4 linked regions of the Homo sapiens genome follow. The protein of the gene in region 2 interacts with the protein of the main gene of each other region in a pairwise test. Each region holds a gene or a part of one and is shown on either strand. Other genes may lie near its edges. The genes, in order: SPATA22, DNAJB6, CRYBA2 and WDR83.

What was found.
Region 1: the proteins of DNAJB6 (region 2) and SPATA22 interact in binary tests that used the Homo sapiens proteins (3 or more experiments, as listed by UniProt).
Region 3: the proteins of DNAJB6 (region 2) and CRYBA2 interact in binary tests that used the Homo sapiens proteins (3 or more experiments, as listed by UniProt).
Region 4: the proteins of DNAJB6 (region 2) and WDR83 interact in binary tests that used the Homo sapiens proteins (3 or more experiments, as listed by UniProt).

The regions. Positions count from the first base shown.
Region 1 is NC_000017.11:3,468,798-3,476,122, forward strand, and holds the start of SPATA22 (spermatogenesis-associated protein 22), read right to left. Parts: upstream 3,023-7,325; 5' UTR 2,885-3,022; exon of another isoform or gene 2,634-2,884; intron 602-2,633; 5' UTR 529-601; coding exon 486-528; intron 1-485. UniProt on the Homo sapiens protein: Meiosis-specific protein required for homologous recombination in meiosis I.
Region 2 is NC_000007.14:157,360,997-157,368,018, reverse strand, and holds part of DNAJB6 (dnaJ homolog subfamily B member 6), read right to left. Parts: intron 4,859-7,022; coding exon 4,749-4,858; intron 1,518-4,748; coding exon 1,458-1,517; intron 647-1,457; coding exon 536-646; intron 1-535. UniProt on the Homo sapiens protein: Has a stimulatory effect on the ATPase activity of HSP70 in a dose-dependent and time-dependent manner and hence acts as a co-chaperone of HSP70. Plays an indispensable role in the organization of KRT8/KRT18 filaments.
Region 3 is NC_000002.12:218,990,407-218,998,054, reverse strand, and holds the start of CRYBA2 (beta-crystallin A2), read left to right. Parts: upstream 1-4,632; 5' UTR 4,633-4,878; coding exon 4,879-5,039; intron 5,040-5,811; coding exon 5,812-5,953; intron 5,954-7,060; coding exon 7,061-7,203; intron 7,204-7,648. UniProt on the Homo sapiens protein: Crystallins are the dominant structural components of the vertebrate eye lens.
Region 4 is NC_000019.10:12,669,789-12,676,336, reverse strand, and holds the end of WDR83 (WD repeat domain-containing protein 83), read right to left. Parts: 5' UTR 6,547-6,548; coding exon 6,444-6,546; intron 6,361-6,443; coding exon 6,240-6,360; intron 6,158-6,239; coding exon 6,052-6,157; intron 5,775-6,051; coding exon 5,726-5,774; intron 5,643-5,725; coding exon 5,516-5,642; intron 3,868-5,515; exon of another isoform or gene 3,757-3,867; intron 3,491-3,756; coding exon 3,423-3,490; intron 3,330-3,422; coding exon 3,221-3,329; intron 3,136-3,220; coding exon 3,021-3,135; intron 815-3,020; coding exon 665-814; 3' UTR 546-664; downstream 1-545. Other genes in the region: DHPS (deoxyhypusine synthase), read left to right, coding at 195-320, 404-499. UniProt on the Homo sapiens protein: Molecular scaffold protein for various multimeric protein complexes. Acts as a module in the assembly of a multicomponent scaffold for the ERK pathway, linking ERK responses to specific agonists.

The sequences.
Region 1 (7,325 bases), on a different chromosome or scaffold from region 2:
TCTTGAATACAGTTAATCCACCATAAATAATAGTTACTATTATCTTCATTATGCATCATCATTCCCCTGGTTCTCATCATCCTTGCCATCTGTCTTTATACTAATAAATTGGGAAAGCAAAAATGATAGGAGAAGCTATTAGAAAGACAGAAGTGCTTCCGGAAATATTTTTAACAAGTAAGTCACAAATACAAACAAAAATAGATCTATTTCTTTGTTTTCAGTTTTAAAGCATAGAATAACTCAAGCACATCGAATTTGTAGAAAGAATATCAAAATAAATCTAAGAAACTTTGATCTTACTCCCACCTCTACCACTAAATGTTTTGTCTTGAGTAAGTTATTTTACTTCCTTGGACCTAAAAAGTAAAGAGGCTAGATTAACTGTTCAATCTATTTTAAATTTATTTCCAATGTTATATCTATAAACTATACAAGCTTTATATGCTATACAGAAAATTTAAAAATAAAAAGTTGTTCAATACCTGCTGTACTTCGAGCTGAATTTTCATTTAGGCTTCGCTTCATTTCCTTCAATATCAAAATCTATAATTTTCTATTCAGCATTCCAAATTTATAATATGACATTGTCCCACTAGACCTGCAAAGAAAGAAACTTATAACTCGTATTGTCTCAACTATAAAACCCAATCCTCAGCCCAGTGATTACTGAAATTATGGTTGTAAACTACTTTCAAACCTGATCACGTAAACACTTTAGGGAGTCCTTTGCTTTCTAAGAGTTTACACCATAATCCACTTTTCCAACCCTGTTCAAATTAAGTTATGACTAGGGCAACTGTAACCTTGCTTCGTAAACATATGTGCATTTTTTCACACAGTATATGTAATTTATTTCAGAATCCCGCACCCACAAAGAGAATTCTGAACCACACCTACAAAGAGGAAAATGGACCACAGCGTTGGCAAACGTACATGCTTCCAAGGCCAAGGAGGAAACACAGTATTTAGCCACCGGGAACTTCCTCCATGCCCCACTTTAAGGCATTGTGCAGGACATCTGCCTTTGCATCAGTTTGAAATGCCTGGATTATATAATATCAAAGACTAAGTCTTCCTGAGGTCAGGAGTTCAAGACCAGCCTGGCCAACATGGCAAAAGCCCATCTCTACTAAAAATACAAAATTAGCCAGGAGTGGTGGCGGGCGCCTGTAATCCCAGCTACTCGGGAGGCCGAGGCAGGAGAATCGCTTGAGCCCGAGAGGCCGAGGTTGCAGTGAGCTGAGATCGTGCCACTGCACTCCAGCCTGGGCAACAAGACCCAGACTCCATCTCAAAAAAAAAAAAAAAAAAAAAAGACTAAGTCCTCCCTTCATATCTAGAATAATTGTAATGACAAGTTTCCACTCCATTTCCACAACTTCAACAAGTGAAACAAGTTTTTCCTTAGTTTTCTTCTTTTACAATAGAATTTCTCTTGTAATTTTGCACGTTTAGCCCCTTAACACATTTCATCCCCAATCTAATACAACGAACACTTGCCCACTGCAAGAAGAGGCAAGATACAAACCCAAACCAGGTAACTTCTGTTCCAAATTCACAACCCAATGAGACAGACAGACCGACACATACACAACTAAGCAATAATGCAAGTCAGGCCGAGGTGTTAACTTTCAAATATCGTTTGTAAAAATAAAACTTGGGAAACAGGCCGGGTGCAGTGGCTCACGCCTGTAATCCCAGCACTTTGGGAGGCCGAGACGGGCGGATCACGAGATCAGGAGATCAAGACCATCCTGGCTAACAGAGGGAAACCCCGTCTCTACTAAAAAATACAAAAAAATTAGCCGGGCGTGGTGGCAGGCACCTGTGGTCCCAGCTACTCGTGAGGCTGAGGCAGGAGAATGGCATGAACTCGGGAGGCGGAGGTTGCAGTGAGCGGAGATCGTGCCGCTGCACTCCAGCCTGGGCGACAGAGCGAGACTCCGTCTCAAAAAAAAAAGAAAAAAAAACAACTTGGGAAACACGAGGTCAGGTGCTGCCTCTGTTTTGTTTCCACATCTTAGGCTTGAAGCTGGGTAGAAGAGATGGACCCTTTAGAAAATATTCCTGGTGGCCAGGTGCAGTGGCTCATGCCTGTGATCCCAGCACTTCGGGAGGCCAAGGCAAGTGGGTCACCTGAGGTCGGGAGTTCAAGACCAGCCTGACCAACAACGTGAAACCCCGTCTCTACTAAAAATACAAAAATTAGCCGGGCATGGTGGTGCGTGCCTGTAATCCCAGCTACCCTGGAGGCTGAGACAGGAGAATCACTTGAACCCGGGAGGCGGAGGTTGCAGTGAGCCGAGATCACGCCACTGCACTCCAGCCTGGGCGACAGAGCGAGACTCTAGGGAAAAAATGGAGAGAGGGAGGAAGGGAGGGAGGGAAGGGAAGGAAGGAAGGAAGGGAAAGGAAAGGAAAGGAAAATATTCTTGGCGCCATCCTAGGAGCCACAACAGGGATTCTGCCACTTTCTCCACCGGCGCAACTCACATCCTATATTTAGAGGGGCTTACGAGGGCTATTATGTTTCTCAGGATCAAACAAACAGAATAAACAACAACAAAATTTTTAAGTGTAACATTCCACCCGCGGGACCATTGATCCTGAGGGCGGGGACCCTCATTTACCCCCAATCCCAGCTCCCAAATGGACCTAAGTGGCGTTAGTAATGGGGTTGGTGGCATTGGTGTGCAAAAAGTGTGCTCAATCTGCACGCACACACACACACACCACCCACAAAAACCACGGCCTCAAATGGCGGCCTGTTTTGGCTCCTGACCGCGGTGGGAGAGAAGAGGCTCCAGTCCGAGTTGAGACGCTCTTCCAAAGGCCTCTCCTGACCCGCCCACGGAGTGGGGGCAGTTTGGTATCAACGCACAGTCTTTCCCTTCTAGGCCCTCCTGCCAACACGACACACAACTTTCGCCCTCAGTTTCCCTCGCCTCCGTCAACCGTCGTCCAGGCGGCCCCGTCAGCAACCGCCGCCCTTCCCGCCCGCGAAGAAAGCGCGGGAATCAGGCTGTTCGCAGGCGCCGTGGACCGCGCAGGCGCAGTGGCCGCCACCTCGGCGCGATGGCATCTTCGCTGCCTGCCTGGCCGCCCTTGGCCGGGCGCGATGACGTTAACGCTCTTCCTTGGCGTTCTCACACTGTGGACCCAGGGATGGCTCCAGCTCCTTAGAGTTTTGCCCAGAGAGGAAAGGAGACTGTCCTGTGACTGGAGAGACAGAGGCAGATCTCCTGCCCAACCGGCCTCAGCCCCACCATCGTCTAAAAAGTGTGCCCCACTTCCCCTCACCCCCTGGCCCTTAGGGTCCAGACATCCGTTTGTTAGATGCTGGTGGCCACCCAGAGTGTGCCCAGAGATTGACTCGAAGGCCACCCGAGGTGTCTGGCTCAATTTCTGGGTCGGATCAGGGTCAGGGAATCTGAGTCCCCGGGAGGCTGGGGACAGAGCTGAAGCCCAGGTTCAGATGGCGGCCATGGAAGGCGGAGAGCCGTCAGCGAGGCAGCGCCGGGGCTGCGGGAGCTTGCGGGAGGGAAGCGCCCGTGAGCCGCAGAGACGCTCTGCAGGGGAAGCCGCGTGGTGTGCGACCCTGGGCGTTGAGCTCCAGGCTTCCTGGCAAAGAGGACTGTGGATTCCTGGCCCTGTGACCTTGGGCAAGTTACTTACTGAACACCCTCTGGACCTACCAGTAAAAGAACAATAACAACAATCGCCCTAAAAATACTAGAAGATGAAATAGACAATCCTGGCACACAGTAAATGCCCAGTAACTGTTAGCCCTTATTTAATTTGAGTAACAGTAGCTGCCATTTATCCGGAACTTACTATGGGCCAGGTAGTGGATTCTAGAGCTGTCTGAGTTCAAAGCCCATGTTTTGTTGTTACCGTATCTTCTAACCATTTGAAGACTGGGATAGGGAAGGGCTTAGAGATGAAAGGAAGATTGTTAGTAAAGGCCTAGGCCTATAAGACCACAGACATTTTAGTAGTTGCTTTAAAACTATCTCAAGTAAAGAAGAGTGTTAGAAAATAATATTAGATGTAGACTGAGACCAGATAATAGCAGACCTTGAATGCCAGAGTAAGGAACAGCTTTCAAGGAATAGGGCCATCTTTTATTTTGGGAAGAAGAAGACTTGAACAATAAAAATAAAACTTGTTATTTATCATGGTTCCAGAGAGGAGTTACCCAAAACATGAATAGAAGCTTCAGGGAAGCAGATTTTGACTTGATATCTACATACGGATGTGCATACATTTACAACACACACCCACCCACCCCAAAAATAGATTTTTCATTAAAAAAAAAAAAAAAAAACCACCTTAAGCCGATTACTTCTGTAGGGACTGCAGACATGAGCAATATAGAATATTTGCTAGCAGTTTATAAACTTAATCTGTTTTATACTTGTCTTTTTCTGCTTATTTATTTCCACCTGGAAAGTTGGTCAGGATGGATCACAGGGAAGGAGAAAACTAAAGTAGTAAAAGTAGTTTGATTACATAACTACTGAACATCACATTATGTATGAGACATCTTATGTATAATATTTAACAAAAAACCCTTCTTATCCCCCAGTCATACCATTTGGGAAACAACCCACCTTAAATTTGTCTCCTACAAAATTTCTGGCAGGGATCTACTGGACAGCCATGACTGTGAAGTAAAACTCTGCTCTCCTTTTGTTTTGTTTTGTTTTGTTTTTGAGACGGAGTTTCGCTCTTGTTCCCCAGGTTGGAGTGCAATGGCACAATCTCAGCTCACTGCAACCTCCGCCTTCTAGGTTCAAGTGATTCTCCTGCCTCAGCCTCCTGAGTAACTAGGATTACAGGCACCCGCCACCACGCCCAGGTAATTTTGTATTTTTAGTAGAGACGGGGTTTCACCATGTTGGCCAGGATGGTCTCGAACTCCTGACCTTAGGTGATCCGCCCACCTCGGCCTCCCAAAGTGCTGGGATTACAAGCATGAGACCACACCTGGCATCCTTTTGTTTTAAACTACATTATTTTATTAATACATCAGGCAACTCTATCCCACAAAACATTTGTAATGCTGGAAGTTATGCTTACTCTTTTAAGTACTTCAGAATATTATATATTCAACTTAATAATGAGATAGTGACAATTCGAAAGGGTTTCACTTCGTATACTATCAGTTCGCTGAGAACTAATAAAAAAGTGTGGTTTTTTGGGTCATCCCAAAAATCAAGTACACTTTGGGAAACAGGGAGTTAAAAATCTTTCGGAAGTTAACTTGGTATAAGAGTATGAAAAGCCTCTGTTGCTCTACTTCTGAGGAAATGCTCTCCTTTTTCCTAATAAAGCTTTCCACAGAAGACAAACTCTGTACACAAAAAACAAGGTAAGTATGGGAAATAATTGCTGCAATTCATTAACTCTCAAAAAAGTTATTCATTTTGACATGTAAGAGAAACTTTATTTATGAATGTGAAATGTGCTTCAAAGTGCTGATCTGTTAAAATTCCATAAAACAAGCTTCAAAATGCAAGTCATTTGTGCCAGCTACGAGTAAATAACTGAAGCAGCATTTCCAGAGAGACTAGGGCAAAGGACAGAACAAACTACAAATCAGCAGAAAAGAAACCAAGCATAGTAGAGTGTTAATAATTCACCATGGTTACTGCTCTTAAAACCAAAGCAACTAAACAACTGTCATCTGTTTACTTTTACGTGTGTTTTCATCATCTCTACACCGTCTGAAGTGTTCAGTGTACATGGATGTGGACAGACAGTCAAAGCCTACAGGAGCTTTTTTTTTCTATTAGAACAGTCATTTTAATGCATAGATTTGATGTGGTTATTTTGCTTTCTCTATCTCTGCATTATAAGCTCTTAAAGGAAGAACATTCAGTGGGTTTATTAAATATTAGGAAGCATTCATATTTTATTTTTCCACCATGTATTTGGTTTGTATGCATGTTTGTTTCCTGAGCACACTGTAATGGCTGTTTATGTGAATTCTGAAAGAGCAAAACTAGAACTGTGAAGAAGACCAAAAATAACAGAGAGGCACCCTATTGTCCTGTGAAAAACACTAGACTTGGGATGAGAAACATGGGTCTCAGGCCTAGGTTCTCCTACATCCCTGCAGAACCTTAACTGAGTTACTTAACCTCTCTTTCGTTTACCCCTGCAGTGGGGATGTCAACACCTAACCCACCCTATCGTATAAAATTAATGTATGAATAAACTGAGTGAAAGGACATTATAAATTAAACTCTGCAATTGTAATAAATTACTCTTATTGTACCCTCTATCAAACAACCTGGCGTTACTAGTACATGGTATTCCCAGTACTTGAACATATGTGACTTTCTGGGTGACTGAGCATGAAATCAAATCAGATTTGGCTCAGAGTCATTTCTCCAAAGGGATGTAATCATCTTAGTATTCTGGAAAATTTCCCCTAATAAGACCCCTTTTTGAGTAACACAGTCCAGTGGAGAGTCCCCGCTGACAGTGAATAAGGCTGTGTCTATGTAAGTTCACATGATGTGGTTAGCACATGCAGTGTGTCCCAAGACATTTTCAGGCATCACAAAAACTTGAAAAGTACTAACAGTTGTCTTTCCTTTGGTATTTAGGCAAAAAATGAGGAAGATTCATAAGTAAGTTAACACAGAATTACCAAAAACCTCATGAGAAAGAAATGAAGGGATGTTTCAGGGTAGCTTTTCGAGTCCCAAGTGATCATTGATTTGGCCCTTCTGTTTCTGATTGTGAAAAAGCATTCTGAAAGAATGGGCGCCGGTTCAAGAGGAGGTCTCTGAGGGTCAGCCTTTGGCTGTTTATAGAGGTGAGATTCAAATGCCCTCAGATCATGAAAAGTGCTTGAACTCATTTCAGAGAAGAAATGTTTTGAAATGCCCGTGGAAATACTGAGTGGGCCACTTTTTTATTTTGTGAAATTAGAAACGTATAAACTATTTTTATTATTACAGATAATTGTGAAAGCCTCACTGGATGACATCCTAGCTGAGGAAAAGAATGGAATTTTTGTATTAGTATGAAATGCTAATTTATTACTGTATTTAGATCTACTGACCATCTGAGGGAGTTAGAAGTTAAAGTAAACAGCTGTATCTCTAGTTGATCTTTGCATATTTTAATCCAAATATGGCAAAGGGCAGGGCTAAAGAAGGGAGTGTCCATAAACGGGGCTCAGAACTTGTAACAGAAAATTAAAATATACTCCACTCAAGGGAATTCTGTACTTTGCCCTTTGGGTAAAGTCTCATTTACATTTCTAAACCTTTCTTAAGAAAATCGAATTTCCTTTGATCTCTCTT
Region 2 (7,022 bases):
TAGCTGGGACCACAGGCACACGCCACCACACTCAGCTAATTTTTAGTATTTTTTTTGTTGTTGTTGAGACAGGGTTTCACCATGTTGTTCAGGCTAGTCCAATGCTGCTTTAAACACAAAGTTTCGTGACAAAATACAATGTTAACTTTTTTTTTTTTGAGACAGGAGTTTCACTCTTGTTGCCCAGACAACAATGCAATGGCATGATCTCAGTTCACCGCAACCTCTGCCTCCCGGGTTCAAGTGATTCTCCTGCCTCAGCCTCCCAAGTAGCTGGGATTACAGGCATGCGCCACCATGCCCGGCTAATTTTGTATTTTAATAGAGACGTGGCTTCTCCATGTTGGTCAGGCTGGTCTTGAACTCCCAACCTCAGGTGATCTGCCCGCCTCAGGCTCCCAAAGTGCTGGGATTACAGGCATGAGCCACCGCGCCCAGCCTAAAATACAATGTTAATTCAACAGAAAGGCCATACTAAGTAAGCCCTCATTTGGGTCATGGACACACACCAAGTCAACCCACGTGATTAACTTACCAAAGAAGTCAAATGAAAATGGGTCCCTTCCACCAAAAAATTCCCTGAAGACATCATCTGGGTTACGGAATGTGAAGCCAAATTCAAATGGACTGTCAAAATGACTTCCACCTGCACAAATACAACACAGCTTTTAGTTTATGAATTTTGGTGCTTTGTAGGCAAAGAATTCTTTGTTGACAAAACATTATACAAATCATGAACTAATAAAAACAAAAATATTTCATAAACCTGAAGTTCTCTATAATTCAAAACATGAGCCCTGTACTGACAGAGAGTGAGTGTGCCCAGCGCTGATGGCATATGAGTGCAGCAGTGGCCCCTTCGACACTACTTTTCACCATCTCTAAATCCGTGATCGGCATATAACATGTAACATTACACACCATTTTTATGATTTGTTATGAAGGTTTATGAAGACCAAGAGTATCTGCATCCACTTCGACGACTGGCCTCCTGGAGCCACAGAAGCTGCCGCGTGGCCCCAGTGGGTTTGGAGCAATAATTTCCCAACACCCCTGGGGAGGCTGGTCACAGCCCAGTGACCGTGGGAACTTTTGGGGACAAAGTCCACGCCCTTCAAAGTCATTATTTTAGCTTTTCAGGAAAATCTGCTCTTTAAACCCTTAGGATATTTTGACATAACGTCAAGTGCTGATCTAAGGGTATATGTTCACAATATATTGCAGTATGGTTACAAATTGTTTCTATCTATAAAAAATACATCAACATATACTTCTAGTCTCGTAAAAGACTTTTAAATGCCATCAATTTCTCTGTCCTCTCCCCAATTTAGTTCGCTTTCTACGTTGCATCTCTATTTACTGATACAAAATCGACTCTGACCAAGAGACTCGTGATTTACAAACTCAACTTACTTGCCAAGACCTTTTGTCTTCAAAGAAAAAACTCACGTACTTACCTCCTCCTCCACCATTTAATCCTTCTTTGCCATATTTGTCATAGATGTCCCGTTTCTTAGCTAAAAATTGAAAGAAAAGTCGGTAAGGCCAAGTTCCTTTTAAACCCTTAATTCAATAGATAAGGTATTTCCCCAGTTGTAAATCAGTTTTCGATGTTTTACAACTGAATTTCAAGGAGTATGGCCACCTTTTCTTTAAAACAAAACAAAGCAACAGGGAAAACTTTCTGTACCTCTCTCCTGAAAAACAATTCAAAAAAAATTCAGTATGTTGAATTTTTACAAGTTATTAGAAATATTTAAGTATTTACGGCCAGGCATGGTGGCTCACACCTGTAATCCCACCACTTTGGGAGGCCAAGGTGGGCAGATCACCTGAGGTCAGGAGTTTGAGACCAGCCTGGCCAATATGGTGAAACCTCATCTCTTGTAAAAATACAATAATTAGCCAGGCGTGGTGGCAGGCACTTGTAATCCCAGCTACTCAGGAGGCTGAGGCAAGAGAATAGCTGGAACCCGGGAGGCGGAGTTTGTGGTGAGCCAAGATCGTGCCATTGCACTCCAGCCTGGGCAACAAGAGTAGGCGCGGGGGGGACTTAGCCACGCGAGGTAGCTCATACCTGTAATCCCAGCACTTTCAGAGGCCGAGAAGGGCCGATCACCTGAGGTCAGGAGTTCGAGAGCAGCCTGGCCAACACGGAGAAACCCAGTCTCTACTAAAAATACAAAATTAGCCAGGCATGGTGGCGCATGCCTGTGATCCCAGCTACTCAGGGGACTGAAGCAGGAGAATCGCTTGAACCCAGGAGGCAGAAGTTGCAGTGAGCCCAGATTGCACCATTGCACTCAAGCCTGGGCAACGAGCAAAACTCCATCTCAAAAGCAAAAAAAAATTTTTTTCTTTATTCCATTAGATCGTTTCTTTCACTCTACTGCACAGAGCCCAGACATGCTACATTAAAATCACACGACCAAGTACAAGATTATTGCAACCACAGAAGTGCACCATCTTACTACAAAAACCCAATTAGAGGACCATATCTGCAGCACGAAAACAAACATGCCAGGGCCTAGGCAAGTGGGAGAAAGCAGATGTGCCAGAAAGGCGCCAACCTAACACCCTACAGGCTCATTCACCCTCGAAGTGGACCACCCGGATGCAAGGCCTGGGGCTAGTGTGCCCCTCTCCACTGACAGTCTTCACACTTACATTCCAAATGCTACTTATATCCCAGAACAAAAACAATGACATTAGAAGCACTGGTACTTCTGACATGACACCATCTGCGTTCCTCAAAAAATCTCATAGGCTGGATGCAGTGGCTAACGCCTATAATCCCAACACTTTGCGTGGGCAAGGAAGGTGGATCACTTAAGCCCAGGAGTTCAAGACCAGCCTGGGCAACACGGCAAAATCCCACCTTTAAACACAATACAAAAAAGTTAGCTGGGCACAGTGGCACCCACCCGTGGTCCCAGTTACTCAGGAAGCCGAGATGGGAGAATCGCTTGAGCCTGGGAGGTCAAGACTGCAGCGAACTGTGATCATGCCACTACATTCCAGCCTGGGCAACAGAGTGAGACCCCTTCTCAATTTTTAAAAAGTAGAAGAAAATCTCACATTCCACAAAATGGGAAAACGAGCTTAGAAACAAACCACTTGCAAGCAGTTTCAGGTAGCCAGTGCCATGGCAAGAACAATGACCATGTTTTGAAGACAACTCCAGCTGGCACTGAAGGCTGCCTAAAAGGACATGAAAAACACACCTCATACACCTCCCAAAAGAACCAAGCGACTTTTCAGTGTGGTAGTTTAAAGCTGCTCTATCAAATATGAAGCTTCATTTTGGCCCTCACTTTTCCTAATGTTACTAGTCCCTAAAATCCTGAATCTGGCAATACTGAATTAGCACACAAACAACAAGGACCGAAGACCAAGATGGTAACACTGAGGCCTGTGCCCTCCTCTGTCACTCCCAGCGCACAAATCTAAGGGAACAAGCCTGGCGCAATGGTGCTTGGAACTTGAGGAGAGAGGACGATCACCTCAACCCAGGAGTTCAAGGCCTCCCTAGGAAACATAGCAAGATCCTCTCTCTTTAAAAAAAATAAACTTTCCAATGAATAAGCTCAACAGTTCAAGACCTTAAATGCCACATTTCAAGAAGACTTCAAATATCGGTGTTTTTATGTCTTTTCATATTTTTTGAAGTAAAATGTTTGGAATTTCCTCTAAAACAAAGGGGGTGGGCCACAGTGTCACCAGAGAAAGCAAGGCTGGTGGTGTGCTGGTAGCTGTTGAAGGTGGCAAGCTTACACTGGGTTCCTTCTGATTGGTTTGGTTTTGTTTTGTTTTTTGGAGACAGTCTCGCACTGTCGCCCAGGCTGGAGTGCAGTGGCGCAATCTCGGCTCACTGCAACCTCTGCCTCAAATTGGGTTCTTTAAAAAAAAAAAAAATTTTTTTTGTTGTAAATAAGGGCCAATTACCTGACCACATGCAGATACACTTAACCAAGTGCCCACTTCCAGGGTTCAGTTAGTCCATCCCTAACCTTGGAAAAGCCTCGGCCTTTGCTCACAACAGGCCACCCAGCACTGCAGCAGACAGGGGCACTGTGTGGCTTTCCAGTTCTGTCACTGTTCCCCCACCCCAGGCCCCATGCACAGCCTTTACTTCCCCCATGGAACCCTGACTGCATCTAGGCGACAGCTGACCTCTGACCCCTCACCCATTTGTGAACTAGGCCAATGGATCTGACTTCCAGTAACATAGAACACCTCTGCTCCAGACCTAGGAGGGGAAAACAGGCCTGAAACTGGAAATCTAAATTTTAGCTGTATGTTCCATCCCCTCTTTTTGGGAACTAATGACATCCTCTCAAGCAGTAAAGCTGACTCCACTGGAATGGTATTGTTTAAGCCAGTGGGGGTGAGCAAGGTCAGAATGATCACACACAACGGGGGCAAGCACGCCACATGCACAGTGACCTGAGTCCCGCAACCTCCTCTCTCCCAGGTTCCTCAAACCCAGGATGTCTAGTCCCGCTTTTAAAACAGCCATCCTAGGAGAAACTACTAGAAGCCCTGGAGCTCCCCAGCACTCGTGGTTACCTAAATCAATTCAAATCTTCACGAGAAAAGTAAAAATCTCTTAGAAGGGCCCAAAATCCAGTAGGCATCAAAAACAAGTCACTTGAGTCCATACTGTGCTACCCTGAGGAGGATCCCAACACCCACTCCGCATTCCGGCATGCCCGCTCAGGGTCCTTCAGCAGCTCGCTGTCACTCACCATCCGACAGCACTTCATATGCCTCCGCTACTTGCTTGAATTTTCTCTCTGCTTCTTCTTTATTCTCAGGATTTTTATCTGGATGCCACTTCAGTGCCAGTTTCCGATATCTTGGAAAGAATAAAGGATATAGATCACATTCTAAATCCAGAAATCAACTATGCTTTTGAAACTAACATCATTAACCACGAGAATGGCTTCAGAGCTGCCAACTGGTGAGATGAATACTGGTTTTAACTGTAAAACCTCCCTTTCCTCTACAATGAAATACACAAAGTTCTAAAATCCAGATAGCCAGGCGTAGTGGCGTGCAGCCACAGATAGACCCAGCTACTCCAGAGGCTGAGGCGTGACAACTGCTTGAGGCCAGGAGTTCAAGGCTACAGTGAGCTATGATCACACCACTGCAGTCCAGCCTGGGCGACAGAACAAGACTGTCTCAAAATTAAAATTGTAAAAATACTCATTAAAGTAAGTTTTAGAATAAAAATCCTGATAGCATAATACAAACGAACCTCTAGAGATAGAAAAATAAAGATCACAGTGTCCACAACGTGGACTGACAGTGACAAGACTGAGCAAGTATGTGAAGTAAAGGAGAAAGGCCAGGCGTGGTGGCTCATGCCTGTAATCCCAGCACTTTGGGAGGTGGGCAGATCACCTGAGGTCAGAAGTTCGAGACCAGCCTGGCCAACATGGAGAAACCCCAACGCTACTAAAAATACAAAATTAGCCGGGCATTGTGGTACTTGACTGTAATCCCAGCTACTCAGGAGGCTGCGGCAGGAGAATCACTGGAACCTGGGAGGCAGAGGTTGTGGTGAGCCGAGATCGCACCATTGCACTCCAGCCTGGGCAACAAGAGCGAAACTCCGTCTCAAAAAATTTTTAAAAAGGGAAAAAAAGGCCTGGGTCACTGAGCAGCAAGATCCAACATCACCATTCATATCCTTCCATGTTCTGATTCCCAGGACCCTACTTCCTCAGCCAGCCCCACTACCTAGCTCATCTGTGTGCCAAAGGTGAATCACCTGCCACCCAACAGGCCAGGATCTCAGAATCTTTCAAACACCCTCTGTGCCAGATTCAAGATCTAAACAGAGTTAAAACACTGACTTCTACAAAGATTCTATGACCAAGGTCATATTCTGTTGCAGAGTTCCAACTGACCAAATAATTGCACGCTATTTAAATACAAAAAAAAAGGCCGGGTGCAGCGGCTCACACCTGTAATCCCAGCACTCTGGCAGGCCGAGGTGGGTGGATCACCTGAGGTCAGGAGTTCGAGACCAACCTGGCCAACATGGCAAAACCCCATCTCTACTAAAAATACAAAAAGCCGGACATGAAGGCACGCACCTGTAATCCCAGCTACTCAGGAGGCTGAGACAGAAGAATTGCTTGAACCCAGGAGAAAGAGGTTGCAGTGAGCCAACATCGTGCCACTGAACTCCAGGCTAGGTGACAGAGCGAGCCTCCGGCTCAACATGAATGCATGAATGAATGAATGAATGAATGAATGAATACAAAAAAATCCTCTAGTCTAATTAGCAAAACCTAAGCAGCATATATTCAAAAGGAGGGTAACGTTAAAAAAGAGAAGCAGCATACCCCTCAAAATTTCAGACTAGTATACTAATCTGACAGTGCTTTTAACACTAGGCAAGTTATTACTGTAAAGCTGTTGTGGCTCAATTTAACTTACAACATGTTCAACAAAACCTTGGCTTAACCATACTAAAATCTGATTAAAGCTGGAGTCCAGAATACTTAACAGTAATTTATGTCACTGTGGACCTAAACAAACATGTAGCAGCCGGGCGCAGTGGCTCATGCCTGTAATCTCAGCACTTTGGGAGGCTGAGGCAGGCAGATCACGAGGTCAAGAGATCGAGACCATCCTGGCCAACATGGTGAAACCCCGTCTCTATTAAAAATATAAAAATTAGCTGGGCATCATGGCAGGCGCCTGCAGTTCCACCTACTCGGGAGGCTAAGGCAGGAGAATCGCCTGAACCTGGGAGGCAGAGGTTGCAGTGAGCCGAGATCACGCCATTGAACTCCAGCCTGGGTGACATAGCGAGACACCGTCTCAAAAAAAAAAAAAAACGTGTAGCAGTGGATCAAATAACCCTAAATGTGCCAGAAATCCTCAGTCAAAAATAACAGACCATACAAAAGACAAAAGAGAAAAAATGATTAGTGTGCAGTACTACCTATCATCTAGTGTTCATATGAAAACTTGGCAATGGATGAGAATGCAGGACAAGATTC
Region 3 (7,648 bases), on a different chromosome or scaffold from region 2:
ATGGTGGCCAGTTCTCTAACCCCACTGAGGGGCAGAGGAGAGGGGCTCTGTTTCTAGTGGGATAGAACAATGGGTCTGTGTGGGTGGGACTCCTAACTGGCCCAAACTGGGCTGGTCTCTGTACCCCGTTATCTCTGTCTCCCAGGAGACCAGTCCTGCACAGCCCCAGGGAAGGTGCTCATCTGCTGATTCTGGGCTCCAGACTGGGGGTGGGGGCGGGGGCCAGAGAAGCAGGGGTGGAAAGGAGGGGCTGGTGATGGTGGCAGGGTGAGGGAAGGCACCCTTCCCTGAATTTGCATCTTCAGTACCCAACCCCTGGATGATTTCCCAGTAAAACGAGGGGGGAGGGCTGGGAGGCGACCCGCTCGAGGAGGGGACATTGGCCACCAGCCCCTCTCCGCTGCCCAGCAGTACTGAGCAGTCAGGCTGTTCCTGGGGTGGGGCTCTAGGTGAGAGAGGTGCCACTTCTTTGGGATTCTCAGGGCCTTTGCCTAGGACGGAGATTGGGCAGGAGCTTAGGAGTGGGTTTGAGGGCTTCCTTGCGGGATCTATGTGTCCCCACATGGGATGGGAGTCCGGGTGGGATGTGAGGGCCTCATGGAGGGGACTTAGGCTCAAAGGATTCTCTGTGGGATCTTATGGGTCTGTATGGGATGGGGGTTTCGGTGAAATCAGAGGGCAGGAGATGGTGGCTAGGGATGGGGTGAGGTCCTGAGGATTTCCTTGTGGGACTCAAAGGTCCCAGTGTGAGATGGAGAACTGAATGAGGTCAGGGTGGGGGCCCTGAGGGTGATAAGATCTCTGTGAGATTTTGAGGGCTCTGTGAAGTGTCCACTGGGGTTTCTGGTTTTTGTCTACCTAATTCCCCGCTCCATGCCCCAAGGCCAGGCTGTGGATGTGGAGGGGGTAGGGGTGACTGTGCTGAGCTGGCAAACAAAGCCACCTGGGCACCCATCCTTCAGGAAGCTCTGGGCGCAACTGATCTGGGAAAACAAACAGGAACAGCTGCTAGGGGTGGGGGGGGTGGGCGGCATGGCAGCTGGGGAGAGGAGCAGAGCTGGACCAGCCTGGTAGGGAAAGGAGGAGACCAGTAGGGGGTCCGTGGTACCCAAGGGGGGTTATCGATCCCAGAGTCCTCTCCTGGCACAGTAGGCAGGGCTGCCTCGAAGCCCCTTCCCCTCAGTGGTTCTTCTCTTTGGCGATAACTGTGAGGCCTAAAGTCAGGAGGGGCCTGAGGGCGTTAGGGGAACCCTGAGATGTTTAGAGGTCTTCTGGGCCAGTGACTATGGGTGGCGGTGGTGGGTATGCCCATTTCTGAGAGAGCTGGTCGCAGTTACTAGAACTAGAAGTCATGGGTGAGGGGGTGGGGGGGGTACCTCCATACCATTTCCACGGGGAGGGACAAGGTAGAGAAGGGGAGAGGCTGGCTGCCGCCAAGACCAGAGTTTCACACTGGAGGAGGAGTAGGGGCCCTTCTCACACACGGGGTCCACTCCCCAACTCCAAGCGGGACTCCTAATTCTAACCTGGACCTCGGCTGGACGGCCTCCCCGCTTTTCCTCCTCCCCTAACCCTGGAAAAGGCGCGACGCACCACTCCTGCAGAATGCCGCCGTGGGACCCACGCGTGGAGCCCGACCCTCGAGAGTACGTCCAGCCCCCAGCCCCGCTCGGTGCACAGTGTCCAGTCTCCGACAGACACCCCCACACCCTCTGACCAACACTTGGCGTCCGCGTCAGGGACAGCGCAGACGCACAGCCTGACGCACTAGCCACCCGCGCCCGCGGCCCCTCCCGACCTGGACCTCCCCTTCCACCCCGCCCTCCGCGCCAGCTTTCGGGCCAGCGCGGCCTGCTCCTGCCCTCTGGTGGCCGAATCCAGAATTGTCGGATAGAGATGGGGGAAGGAGGGAAGGCGAGATCTGATTCTTCACCCCTCACCCCTGCCCGGGCTGGTGACACTGAAGGCAAAGACTGGGACACCAAGGGTCCAGAACTGGCTCGTGCCCCACTCTGTGGTTTGTATTCCCTCCTTGAGGTTTGTGTTTGTTCAAACCCCCGCTAGGTAGGGAATCAGGACACTGTTCTGACCTCACCCCCAGTCAAACCTGCCTGAGGTTGTCCCATCTCTGACCCATATCCTCCTCACTCGGACTCTACCGCCATGCCCAGTTCTAGGGCCCTGTACTGTTGGCACCCATCTTCACACACACTGCGAGCTCCAACAGTAACTCCTCACCAGGGAAAAGAGAGCCCAAGGGATCCTCTGTCTGCCCCCAGCTCCTGCTCTCAGCAACCCAGAACTTCAGAGGTGGGAGAGCAAGCTGCCAAGACCCCCCCGCCAACTTCCATTGGAGAATTTTCTCTACACCCCTTTTCCCGTGGACATTTGGCCCACGCCTGACCACCTTGTTCGTTCACTCGTTCAAGAAGTTTTATTGAGTGCCTACTATGCATCCAGCACTGTGCTAGGTTTGAGGATAACAACTGAGAACAAAACACAGTCCCTGCCCCTTCAAATGGAGCTTACACTCTGGTAAGGGAGATGCTGCTACACCCATAAACACAAGATGAAAAAGATAACTTTACAGCGTGATAAATGCTAGAAAGAAAAAGGCTGATGTGATGGATGGAAGGGTGCCTAGAACAGCATCACTGAGGAGGTGACACAGGAGCCAGCCATGCCACGATCTTGTGACCAAGACACTCCAGGTAGCTGGAACAACAAATGCAAAGGCTCTGAGATGGGCTGAGTATGGAACACTGGGAAGAAGGCTTAGAAGGCAGGCTGGTGTGGCAAGGCTTCTGGGAGCTGGGGTGTCCGCAGCTGGCCTGTGAGCACTTTTTGGCACGGGAGCTTCAATGGACAGCGGCGGAGCACAGGCTTTGGCTTCCAAAGGTCTGAGCTCGATTCTTGCTCTGAAACTGGCTAGCCATGTGAGTTTGGACAAGGCCCTGCACCTCTTTGACCCTCCGCTTCCATAACCGTACACACAAACCTAACTCGCTGGACTGTTGTGAGGACCCATAAGGGAAGCATGTGACTCATGGAAGCAACAAAATATTAGCTCCCTTCTCACTCGCCCCTCTCACCTCTGCTGGAATATCCCCACCCGCACCCACCACCATTAAGGAAAACCTACAATTTTGCAAGAAGCCTTTGTGTCTCATTTGCTGTGGTTAGAAAATTCCACTGCAAGTGGTGAGGAAATTTCCTACCTGGAGCTACCCCTTGGGACTCCCAACCTTTTTGGAGCTCCCAACCTTTTCCTCTTCCCCCTCTACCTCCCCTTTTCTCTACACCCCCCACCCCCACCCCCACCGCCGCCTTTTCCCAGCTCACTCTGTCGCCCAGACTGGAGTGCAGTGGCTTGATTTCGGCTCACTGCAACCTCCACCTCCTGGGCTCAAGCAATTCTCCCATCTCAGGCTCCCAGGTAGCTGGGACTACAGGCGCATGCCAACACGCCCGGCTAATTTTTGTTTGTTTTTGCAGAGACGGGGTTTCACCATGTCGCCCAGGCTGGTCTCAAATTCCTGGGTTCAAGAGATCCTCCCACCTGGGCCTCCCAAAGTGCTGGGATCACAGGTGTGAACCACTGCGCCCGGCCCTGGGAGATTTCTTAGCTGTGACCCCTGCACCACATTCCAAAGCCCTCTGGGCCTCCACTTCTTCATCTGCGAAATGCAGGACAATAACAGTATCTTCCTAGCAGGTCAGTGTTAGAATTGATGGAGTTCACGCACCCGAAAGCCTGAGCAGAGAACTCGGCCTGAACTAAGCGCTTCATCCTCAGCTGCTAACTCTCAGGCAGACGTCGAGGCTGGAACCCTTAGAGCCTGGAGCTTTGTGGGAGACCCGCAGCGGCACCGGTTGAGCCGAGCTAAAGCCCAACATTCTTCCTACCTCCCGCGGCGAGCCACTCCCTAGGTGGCTATTATGCCTAAACACTGAGTAAACCGCGCGGCCCTCGGGCGGTCGTTTCCAGCGCCCGGCGCCGCCGCGTGGCGAGTCCTGACCACCGCCTCCTCTCCTTCCCGGGCCCGAGGACACCCCGGGGGCGCGGCGCAGGATCTGGGAACGCACGCTTGGGAGGAAAAGGGCCGCGATGGACCGATCCCCCAGGAAAAAGAGGACTGAGCACATGAAGCGAATCCTTTGGGCAGAGCCCTCTCTACCTCCGCCTTAGCATCGCCCAAAAGAGAGGCCTGGACTAGGGCCGAGGAAGGCTGGCGATTAGACTCTGGGAAGAACTTCCGCTCAGCGAGTCAGCAGCGCGGTCTTAGCCCGAGGCCCAGGGGAGGCCAGGTCCCTTCGTCCCCGAGGGCCGGGACAGGGAGGGCGCGTTCTGCCCCGAGGCCTGGCGTGCCCTGCCTGGCTCAGGCTGGAAAGAAAGAAAGCGCGGAGTCAGCCTGGGCTGCGGCGGGCGCGGGGTGCGCGCCTCAGCACTTTCTGTTGTCTTTCCCGCGGGCTGGGGCCACAGCGGCGGCTGCGGGAGAGGCCTCGGCTCCCCAGCGGAGACCAGAGCCGACCGCAGCCTGCCTGCTGACTCAGCGACCCCACCCCCGAGGGAAAGGGTGCGGACAGGGGGACAAGGCCCAGGTATAAAGCTCGGCCCGCCCGGCCGCGCGCAGCCTCGCAGCCGGTCCATTTCCCTCGCGTGCCGCGCTCACCCACCCGGTGAATGCCCTCTGCTGGGGTGGGGAAGGGAGGGGAGCGCGGGAAGACTGCGAGCCCCTGGCAGCCGGGTCCAGAGCTAGGCCGGGTCCAGCCCCCGGGTTCTTCATCCGCTACCCAGGTTGGGCAGGCTGTGTGTGGCTCGAAACGGGGCTCTTGAGACGCTGAGCGCGTGGTGCCACCCTTCCTGTCCGCAGCGGCATGAGCAGCGCCCCCGCGCCGGGCCCGGCGCCCGCCAGCCTCACGCTCTGGGACGAGGAGGACTTCCAGGGCCGTCGCTGTCGGCTGCTAAGCGACTGTGCGAACGTCTGCGAGCGCGGAGGCCTGCCCAGGGTGCGCTCGGTCAAGGTGGAAAACGGCGTGTGAGTGATTGCCTGGCCGCGGCTGGGCTGGGTTGAGGGGCGCTGGGTTCCACCGGCCTAGGCTCAGAGCCTCAGCCCCCTGTCCTGTGAGCCCTGGAGAGACCTGCCAACATGGGAAACCCCATAGCCTCCCCAAAATTCCCCACCCATCGCAAGATAAATCATGGGAAACTGTGTATTTTTGTGCTAGCTAAAGAGACACAGGCGAGAAGCGACCCCTTGAGGGTCCCTATGGGACCCCACCGTGAAGGGGTTTCTAGTGTACTTACACCCTTCCCAGAGTTTTTCTCTGTGCAAAATTAGAAGGCTCTGCACTTGGCTTAACAAAAGAAACCCAATCCCTTTCCCTGGCCCCACCCTGGTCTCCCAGAGCCCAGCTTTTCCCACCCTGCCGCCCCCTACCCCTGCCCCAGCTGAGGTCCCAGTTTCTGCTGTGATATTCGGGAGGGGTCCTCCAATGTGTCCCCATGCAAAGGCCTAAACCCTTGAGGCAGGAGCACTGGGTCGGGAGATCTTCATAACCAGGAAAACTCTTTCCCAACCTGGGGTCCTTGAGGGGGAAGCCTGGGCGCCTCAAACCCCAGAAAGCAGCAGGTTTTGGACCTTTAGTTCCGAGAGGGGCTGGATTGCCATACAATGGGGGTGTCAGGGGAAGGGTTTGGGGTTGGAGAAAAACATTGTGCTTCTCAGTCTTTTCAATCATGGCCGGCAAGGGGGAGGGCAGAGAGGGTGCGGCTGGGGCAGATACCTCCCAGCTCTTCTCCTTTTCCAGTTGGGTGGCCTTTGAGTACCCCGACTTCCAGGGACAGCAGTTCATTCTGGAGAAGGGAGACTATCCTCGCTGGAGCGCCTGGAGTGGCAGCAGCAGCCACAACAGCAACCAGCTGCTGTCCTTCCGGCCAGTGCTCTGCGCGGTGAGCACAGCCCACTTCTCCTCCCCTGCCTCCTAGCTCCAGGCCCTGGCCTCACCATGGCACCTAGAAAGGCTGTTCAAGCCCTGCATGGGGTGTGTGTAAACAAACTCCGAGATGGGTGGTAGTAGCATTATTTCTCAGAATCAGAAGGGTGTCTCCAAGAAAGTTGGGATTGTGGGCGTAGGCCCGGAGCCCAGAAATCATCACCACGGACAGCGCTGAGGCCATCCCAGTCCTGAGTGCCCAGGGTTCCCCCACATTCCATCGTCCACACGTGTGAGTGAGTGCCTCTGTCGTCACACAGCCATGTGAGGTCGGGTTGACTGCTGTTAGCCCCATACACAGGTGTGGAAATGGGGCTCAAAGGGACAAAGTGGCTTGCCCAGGGTCACTGAAAAGAGTCAGTCTCAGTGTGTTTGTGTGTGTGTTATTGTGTGTGTGAGGGTGTTGTTAATGAATCAAATACACCGAAAGAGAGGACCTCATTTTCCATTTGTGCCGACCTGGTTACTAGTAGGGCTGGGAAGTGGAGAGCAGAGGACCCAGCCCAGGCCAGCCCAATTCTTCTGTTCCAAGAGGCTGAAGAACCCTGCAGTGGGAAGGCCGGAGCCAAGATGCAATCAGTATTGATGCCCTGACATGTCTATTCTGATTCTGCCACCCAGTACCTCTTAGCTGGGCACTAATCTGTGAGAGGCTGTGCGAAGGGGCTGGGCAAGGGCTTGGGTAGTTAGTCAATGAGGACCTCAGGGAACTGTCTTGGTGAATGGGACAGATTTCTCTAAGGACCTCTGATTTTGCTCCTGCAAAATGGGCCCATGTCACAAGATGCTCTCTAGTCCTGACCTGAAAGGGTCTCTGGAAATCCTATCCCCCAATCACCTCCTTATCTCAAAGTCATGGGAGGGGCCAGGTTCGGGGGAACCTCTGAGCGATCCATTTCCCAGACTGCCAGGGAGCTGATGGGGTGAGCTCTGGGAGTGCCTGTGGGTCCTAGACAGCTTCACAGCTTGTGAGGTGCAGTGGGTGGGGGAAGTGAGGCAGAGGATGTATCCGTTAACCCTTTGGAAGCCCTGATCTTTCTGTCCTGATCTTGCTGTGCCTCAGAACCACAATGACAGCCGTGTGACACTGTTTGAGGGGGACAACTTCCAAGGCTGCAAGTTTGACCTCGTTGATGACTACCCATCCCTGCCCTCCATGGGCTGGGCCAGCAAGGATGTGGGTTCCCTCAAAGTCAGCTCCGGAGCGTGAGTCCTGGAACTGGAACCAGGGAGACAGAAGAGCAGGGAGGCAATGGGGACCAAGGAAGAGGGTGGAGAAAAGTGATGTGGGGAGGGCGCTAAGAGAGATATTGGGGACTTGGAGGCAAGGGGAGGGAGATGATGGAGTCAGACTGGAAGGGAGGAAATGAGGAGGTCCTAGGAGAATGGGGGGCAGCGGGCAATATGGGCACAGATGAAGGGCTGGAGAACATGAGGGGGTGGAGGAAATAAGGGGTGGGTATAGAAGACTGGATGAGAACGGTGACAGAAAGACTGGAAGCAGTGGGCAGGGGAGGGAGAGAGCCACGGAGGGAAAGTTGAAGCAATGATTTTGGAACTGGGGGTTGGGAGCTACAAAAGGGGGGCTGCTGGTGGAGAACATAGGGTGGGGGTGGGGGCAGAGCTTACTCCCTGCCTCTGTACCCTCACT
Region 4 (6,548 bases), on a different chromosome or scaffold from region 2:
AAACACAGCCATCGTTGCCCAGCAGCTCTAGTGACCCCAGACATTGACATGGGCCCTGTCTGGGAGCGAATGTCTGTGAAGGGCTTCCTTCATCTGGGACACACCTCTCAGCCTGTTTGGCTACGGTGTCCTCCCTCTGTGTCTGTCTCCTGTGACTGGCTGACTGGGCCCACCGTGCCCCCGCCTCCCCACAGCGGAACGGGGCCGACTACGCTGTTTACATCAACACAGCCCAGGAGTTTGATGGCTCTGACTCAGGTGCCCGACCAGACGAGGCTGTCTCCTGGGGCAAGATCCGGGTGGATGCACAGCCCGTCAAGGTAAGCGCTGGCTGGGTGGGGCATAGGGTCTCTGGGACGATGAGTGTGGGTCCCATGGCTTACCCAGGTTCCCCCCTACCCAGGTCTATGCTGACGCCTCCCTGGTCTTCCCCCTGCTTGTGGCTGAAACCTTTGCCCAGAAGATGGATGCCTTCATGCATGAGAAGAACGAGGACTGAGCGGCTGCGGTCCCAGGAAGGTCTTACCCCCTCTTCTATTTATTAATTTGCAGACCCAGCCCCTCCCCTACTTTTTGGTCAGCTACGTCTCTAGAATAAGATGGTATCTGAAGTCCTTCCATGTCTGTGTCTCGGTCCTTGGTCCTGTTGGTGGGTCCCCTGGCTTCAGCCTGCTCCATCCTCTGCCTCATAGGCCTCCTCTCGCCAGCACTGGACGCTGCCTCCCATGGCGGTCAGCAGGCAGGGCTCTGTTGGGTGGTAGGCCAGCGACTGCACCACACCGGAACCCACAGGCAGGGCCAGAGCCAGCGCACCCTGTGGAGCGAGGGGTAGGGAGTGGTTATCTGTGGCTGGGCTGTACCCTGGTTTCTGAGGTCCCTGGGCACCCCCCATCTCAGTCCTGCCTGAAGCCCTCAGTCACCTCTCCCCGACCTTCAGCCACCTGCCTCTAATTGCCTCCTAGACACTGCAAAATTAATCTACCTCAGACTGAGCCCCTCAGTAGCTCTGTCCTACCAGGTGTTCAGGCCGCAAGTCTTGGGAGCCTCTTATTGATTTTTTATTTTTTAAAATAGCAGAGATGGGGTCTTACCATGTTGCCCAGGCTGGTCTCGAACTCCTGGCCTCAAGTGATCCTCCTGCCTTGGCCTCCCAAAGTGCTAGGACTACAGGTGTGAGCCACCATGCCTGGCTTTGGGAGTCTTTTTCTTTTTCTGTTTTTTTTTGAGATGGAGTCTTGCTCTGTCGCCAGGCTGGAGTGCAGTGGCGCCATCTGGGCTCACTGCAACCTCCGACTCCCTAGTTCAAGCGATTCTCCTGCCTCAGCCTCCCGAGTAGGTGGGATTACAGGCACGCGCTACCATGCCCAGCTAATTTTTGTATTTTTAGTACAGATGGGGTTTCACCATGTTGGCCAGGATGATCTCTATCTCCTGACCTCGTGATCCACCCCCCTCGGCCTCCCAAAGTGCTGGGATTACAGGTGTGAACCACCATGCCTGGCCGGGAGTCTTTTTCTTGTACCACATGTTCCTCTATCAGTTATTCCTCTTGGCTCTGCTTCTAGACCATGTCCAGAGACTGCTGATTTTCTGCCACTACCATGTTTGGAGCATGCCTTGCTCACAGCTTGCCTGTTCCCTGCCACCAGCTGGGCTCCATCCTGTCCATTTGGCAGCCCCAATGATCCCCACTTCCCCTGGTCCCAACACAATGTAAACAGTTCCTCAAGCAAGCCATGCTTCCTCTTTCCACCTTGAAAATGTCCCTTGATGTGCCTGCCCTCCAAGGCAACTTCTGTTCTACTGGGCCCATAAGAAATAGGTGGAACATTCTTGCTACCTTAGTTCCTAAAGCAAGAGCTTGTCCGCCAAGTCTTCAGGGCCCCCCCGGTTCCCTCCATCCTCTTATGGGCCTTAGTTCCCCTGGCCAAGCCCAGCGCTGATGTCTCCTTTGCCGAGATTCCCCCGGCTCTGACCCCACTACACCAGGATGGTCTGTTTCTGGCCTGACTCCCCACCAGGCTGGGACATGTCAAGGACAGGGCTCAGGGCTTGAAACCATGCACAGGGATGCTAAGATGTAGCTCCAGTTTCTTGAATGACTGCAGCCCTATCTCACCCAAGGTTAGACATGGCCGTCGGCTCCCCCTTGCCCAGGGGTCAGTGCCAGTTGCTCGGCCTGGCATCTGCAGCCCAGCCTGACCCCGGATCTTGCCGCACCTGCCGCCACCCTGAAGCCTTTGTTTCCTGACTGATGCATGCGCAGGCTACACCTCTTAACATATGCTGTTCCCTTTGCCTGGAATGCCCTTCCTGCCTCATCTTCTCTCTAGCCCAAGCTGGGCACGGTGTCTCAGGCCTGTAATCCCAGCACTTTGGGAGGCCGAGGCGGGTGAATCACTTGAGGTCAGGAGTTTGAGACCAGCCTGGCCAACATGGTGAAACCCTGTCTCTACTAAAAATACAAAAATTAGCCAGGTATGGTGGTAGGGGCCTGTAATCCCAGCTACTCAGGAGGCTGAGACATGAGAATCACCTGAACCCTGGGGGGAAGAGGTTGCAGTGAGCTGAGATGGCGCCACTGCATTTGCCTGGGCAATAGTCTCAAAAAAAGAAAAAAGGGCCGGGTGTGGTGGCTTACGCCTGTAATCCTAGCACTTGGGAAGGCTGAGGTGGGTGGATCATGAGGTCAGGAGTTTAAGACCAGCCTGACCAACATAGTGAAACCCTGTCTCTACTAAAAATACAAAAATTAGCTGGGTGTGGTGGCACGCACCTATAATCCCAACTACTCAGGAGACTGAGGCAGGAGAATCGCTTGAACTTGGGAGGCGGAGTTTACAGTGAGCCAAGATTGCGCCACTGCACTCTAGCCTGGGCGACAGAGCAAGACTTGTCTCAAAAAAAAAAAAAAAAAAAAAAAAAAGATCCTAGCCTTCAGGCCCTGGAGTGACTGAGGTAAGGACAGGGCTGAGATGGGGCAGGCATCTAGGTATGAAGTAGGGCTGGGGGCACCTCACCTCCACCAGGTCCCAGAAGAACACCTTCCCGTCCTCAGAACAGCTGACCACATGTGTGTCACGCTCGCTCAGGCAGCAGTCCAGCTTGTATTCCTGGTTCTTATGGCCCTTGTACCTAAGGGTGGACAGGATCGGGGGGCTTGGTCCTCTCCAGGGGTGGGAGAGGAGGGAAGGGGATCCCCACGACCACAAGGACTCACTCGCCCAGCAGCTCCCCTGTGTCTTTGTCCAGGAGCCGCAATGTGGAGTCCAGGCTGGACACCAGGGTGCACTGCCCATCCCGGCTGAAGCAGGTGCAGGTGATGGGGCCTTGGGGGAAGGGTGGGTAGGTGAGTGAGGGTGGGGTGCCCCTGGTTGGCCCCCCATCTTCCCTGCCTGTCCCACATCCCCAGCCACACTCACTGCCCACGTAGTCTGAGAAGAGCTGCCCCATCCTTAGGTCATAGCGTCTCACGCGGCCATCCACGGAGCTGCAGGAGAGGGTAGATCCAGCGGGAACCTTGACTACACTCACATGGCTCCAGGCAGCCCTGTGCCTTCCCAGCCCAGTGGGCCTGCTCTTCCAGTGCACAGGAGTGGAATTCTGAAGCTCTGGCCTTGAGACTCAGGCCCAGGGCCAATTACGTCCTACTCCATCATTTCCAAGACCCACACCCCCTTTCCAAGCCCTTGGAGTCCTTCTGATTCCCCCTTTTCTTCCTTTTGTTTGAGACAGAGTTTTGCTCTTGTTGCTCAGGCTGGAGTGCAATGGCATGATCTTGGCTCACCGGAACCTCTGCCTCCCGGGTTCAAGAGATTCTCCTTCCTCAGCCTCCCGAGTAGATGGGAATACAGGCATGCACCACCACGCCCTGCTAATTTTGTATTTTTAGTAGAGACGGGGTTTCTCCATGTTGGTCAGGCTGGTCTCGAACTCCCAACCTCAGGTGATCCGCCCACCTCAGCCTCCCAAAGTGCTGGGATTACAGGTGTGAGCCACCCCACCTGGCCCAATTCCCCCTTTTCCTGCATTCTCCAGCTCCTCCTCCTCAGTACTCAGTCCCACCACTTTCCCCACTACCCAGCACCAGCATCTAGACTGTTCTGGTCTCCCTGCACCCCCCACAGCCACCAGAGGGAGCACTTTTCAAAGTACAGTTGACCCATGAACAACACGGTTTGAACTGAACGCGTCCACTTATATGTGGATTTTCTTCTGCCTCTATCAGCTGTGAGACACCAAGATCAATCCCTCCTCTTCCTCCTCCTCTGCTTTCTCAACACGAAGATCTTTATGACGATCTCTTCACTTCCACTTAATGAATAGAAAATATATTTTTTCCACCAGGCGCGGTGGCTCACGCCTGTGATTCCAGCTCTTTGGGAGGCCAGGGCAGGTGGATCACGAGGTCAAGAGATGGAGACCCTCCTGGCCAACATGGCGAAACCCCGTCTCTACTAAAAATACAAAAATTAGCTGGGCGTGGTGGCACGCGACTGTAGTCCCAGCTACTAGGGAGGCTGAGGCAGGAGAATCGCCTGAACCTAGAAGTTAGAGGTTGCAGTGAGCCGAGATCACGTCACTGCACTCCAGCCTGGCAACAGAGCGAGACTGCGTCTCAAAAAAAACAAAAATTCTTCCTTATGATTATTTTTATGTATTTATTTATTTAATTTATTTACTTATTTTGAGACGGAGTCTTGCTCTATCGCCCAGGAGTGTAGTGGTGCGATGTCGGCTCACAGCAAGCTCTGCCTCCTGGGTTCACTCCATTCTCCTGCCTCAGCCTCCTGAGTAGCTGGGACTACAGGCGCCTGCCACTATGCCCGGCTAATTTTTTGTATTTTTAGTAGAGACGGGGTTTCACCGTGTTAGCCAGAATGATCTCGATCTCCTGACCTCATGATCCGCCTGCCTCTGCCTCCCAAAGTGCTGGGATTACAGGCATGAGCCACAGCGCCCGGCCTATTTTTATTTATTTTTAGAAATCATTTTATCTTTTTTTTTTTGAGATGGAGTCTCACTTTGTCGCCCAGGCTGGAGTGCAGTGGCACAATCTCGGCTCACTGCAACCTCCAACTCCCGGGTTCAGGCGATTCTCCTGCCTCCGCCTCCCGAGTGGCTGGGATTACAGGCTCCCGTCACCACACCTGGCTAATTTTTGCATTTTTAGTAGAGACGGGGTTTCACCATGTTGGCCAGGCTGATCTCAACCTCCTGACCTCAAGTGATCTGCCCACCTTGGCCTCCCAAAGTGCTGGGATTACAGGTGTGAGCCACCGTGCCCGGCCAGATTATTATTATTTTGTAGACAGTCTGTCTTTCACCCAGCATGGAGTGCAATGGTGCCTCGAACTCTTGGACTCAAGTGATCCTTCCACTTCAGCCTCCCAAGTAGCTGGGATTACAGCTGTGTGCCACTGTGCCCAGCTGAGAGTAGGTTTTAATCTGAGCATGGGGGCAGCTATGATTCCCCGTAGCACCTGGGGTGAGACCAGGTCCTGGCTCCACTCACCCTGCCAGGATCTCGTGGTCTGACACCTTCACACTGGACACGCCATCTCTGGCCTCATCCAGCGTCTGCACTGGCTCAGGCCTCCGTGAGCGGCAATCCCAACAGCGGATACTGGAATCAATAGAGCCTGTGAGGCCAGCATGATGGTGAGGTCAGGTTTGGAGGGGGAGGGCAGCACCCTGGGCCCCCGTGCTTAGGCCCCAGACTCACCGGACAGGATAACTGTGGCCTCTTCATTAAACTGCACCGTGTTCACCTTCTGAGAAAGTTATTGCCACTCAGAGGAGGCTGGACTTTGGAGGACTGGGATAAAGGCAGGGTTCCCAGTGTCGGTTAAAGCAAGGGCGAAGGGGAGGTGAAAGGTTTTGGGGGAACAGCAAGGACAGGGGTTGGTGACTGCCTAGCCTGGCATGCGGAGTGGGGGATCGTCATCTGGGGAAGGGATCCTTACGGTGTAATGGGGGTGGCCGTGTCACCACCTATGCGCTAATACGGGTCCCCTCCACTCAAATGAGGGTCTCCAGGCTTTCACTCACCCCTGCGTGGCCCCGGAATTTGCGCACGACCTGCCCTGATGCCACATCCCACAGAACCACCGCCTTGTCCCCGCCGCCGGAGCAGAGACTACTGTTGTCAAAGGAGCTGGAGTAAAGGAGGAGGAGGATCAGCATCGACCTCGGATCCCAGCCTCAGCGCTCCCATCCCAGCCTGGTCCCCGGCTCACCCGGCCGCATCCAGCACCTCGTAGCCGTGGCCGCTGTACGTCCGCAGCAGCGTCCCCCGAAGCGGGTTCCACAGCTTCAGCGTCTTGTCACTGCCGCACGTCAGGCAGTAATTGCCATCCACTGGGGAACACCAGGCGGGGGTTACTGGGCCGTCGATCTCAGGAGGCGGGAGGAGGACCCGGAATGAAGACGAAGGCGCTCACCATTAAATCGTACGGCTCGCACTGCCCCCTGCCCGCAGTCCAGCGTCTTCAACCGTTTCTGCGGCAGCTCTGGAGGCCGCGGCTTTGGCTCAGGGAAAGCCATGC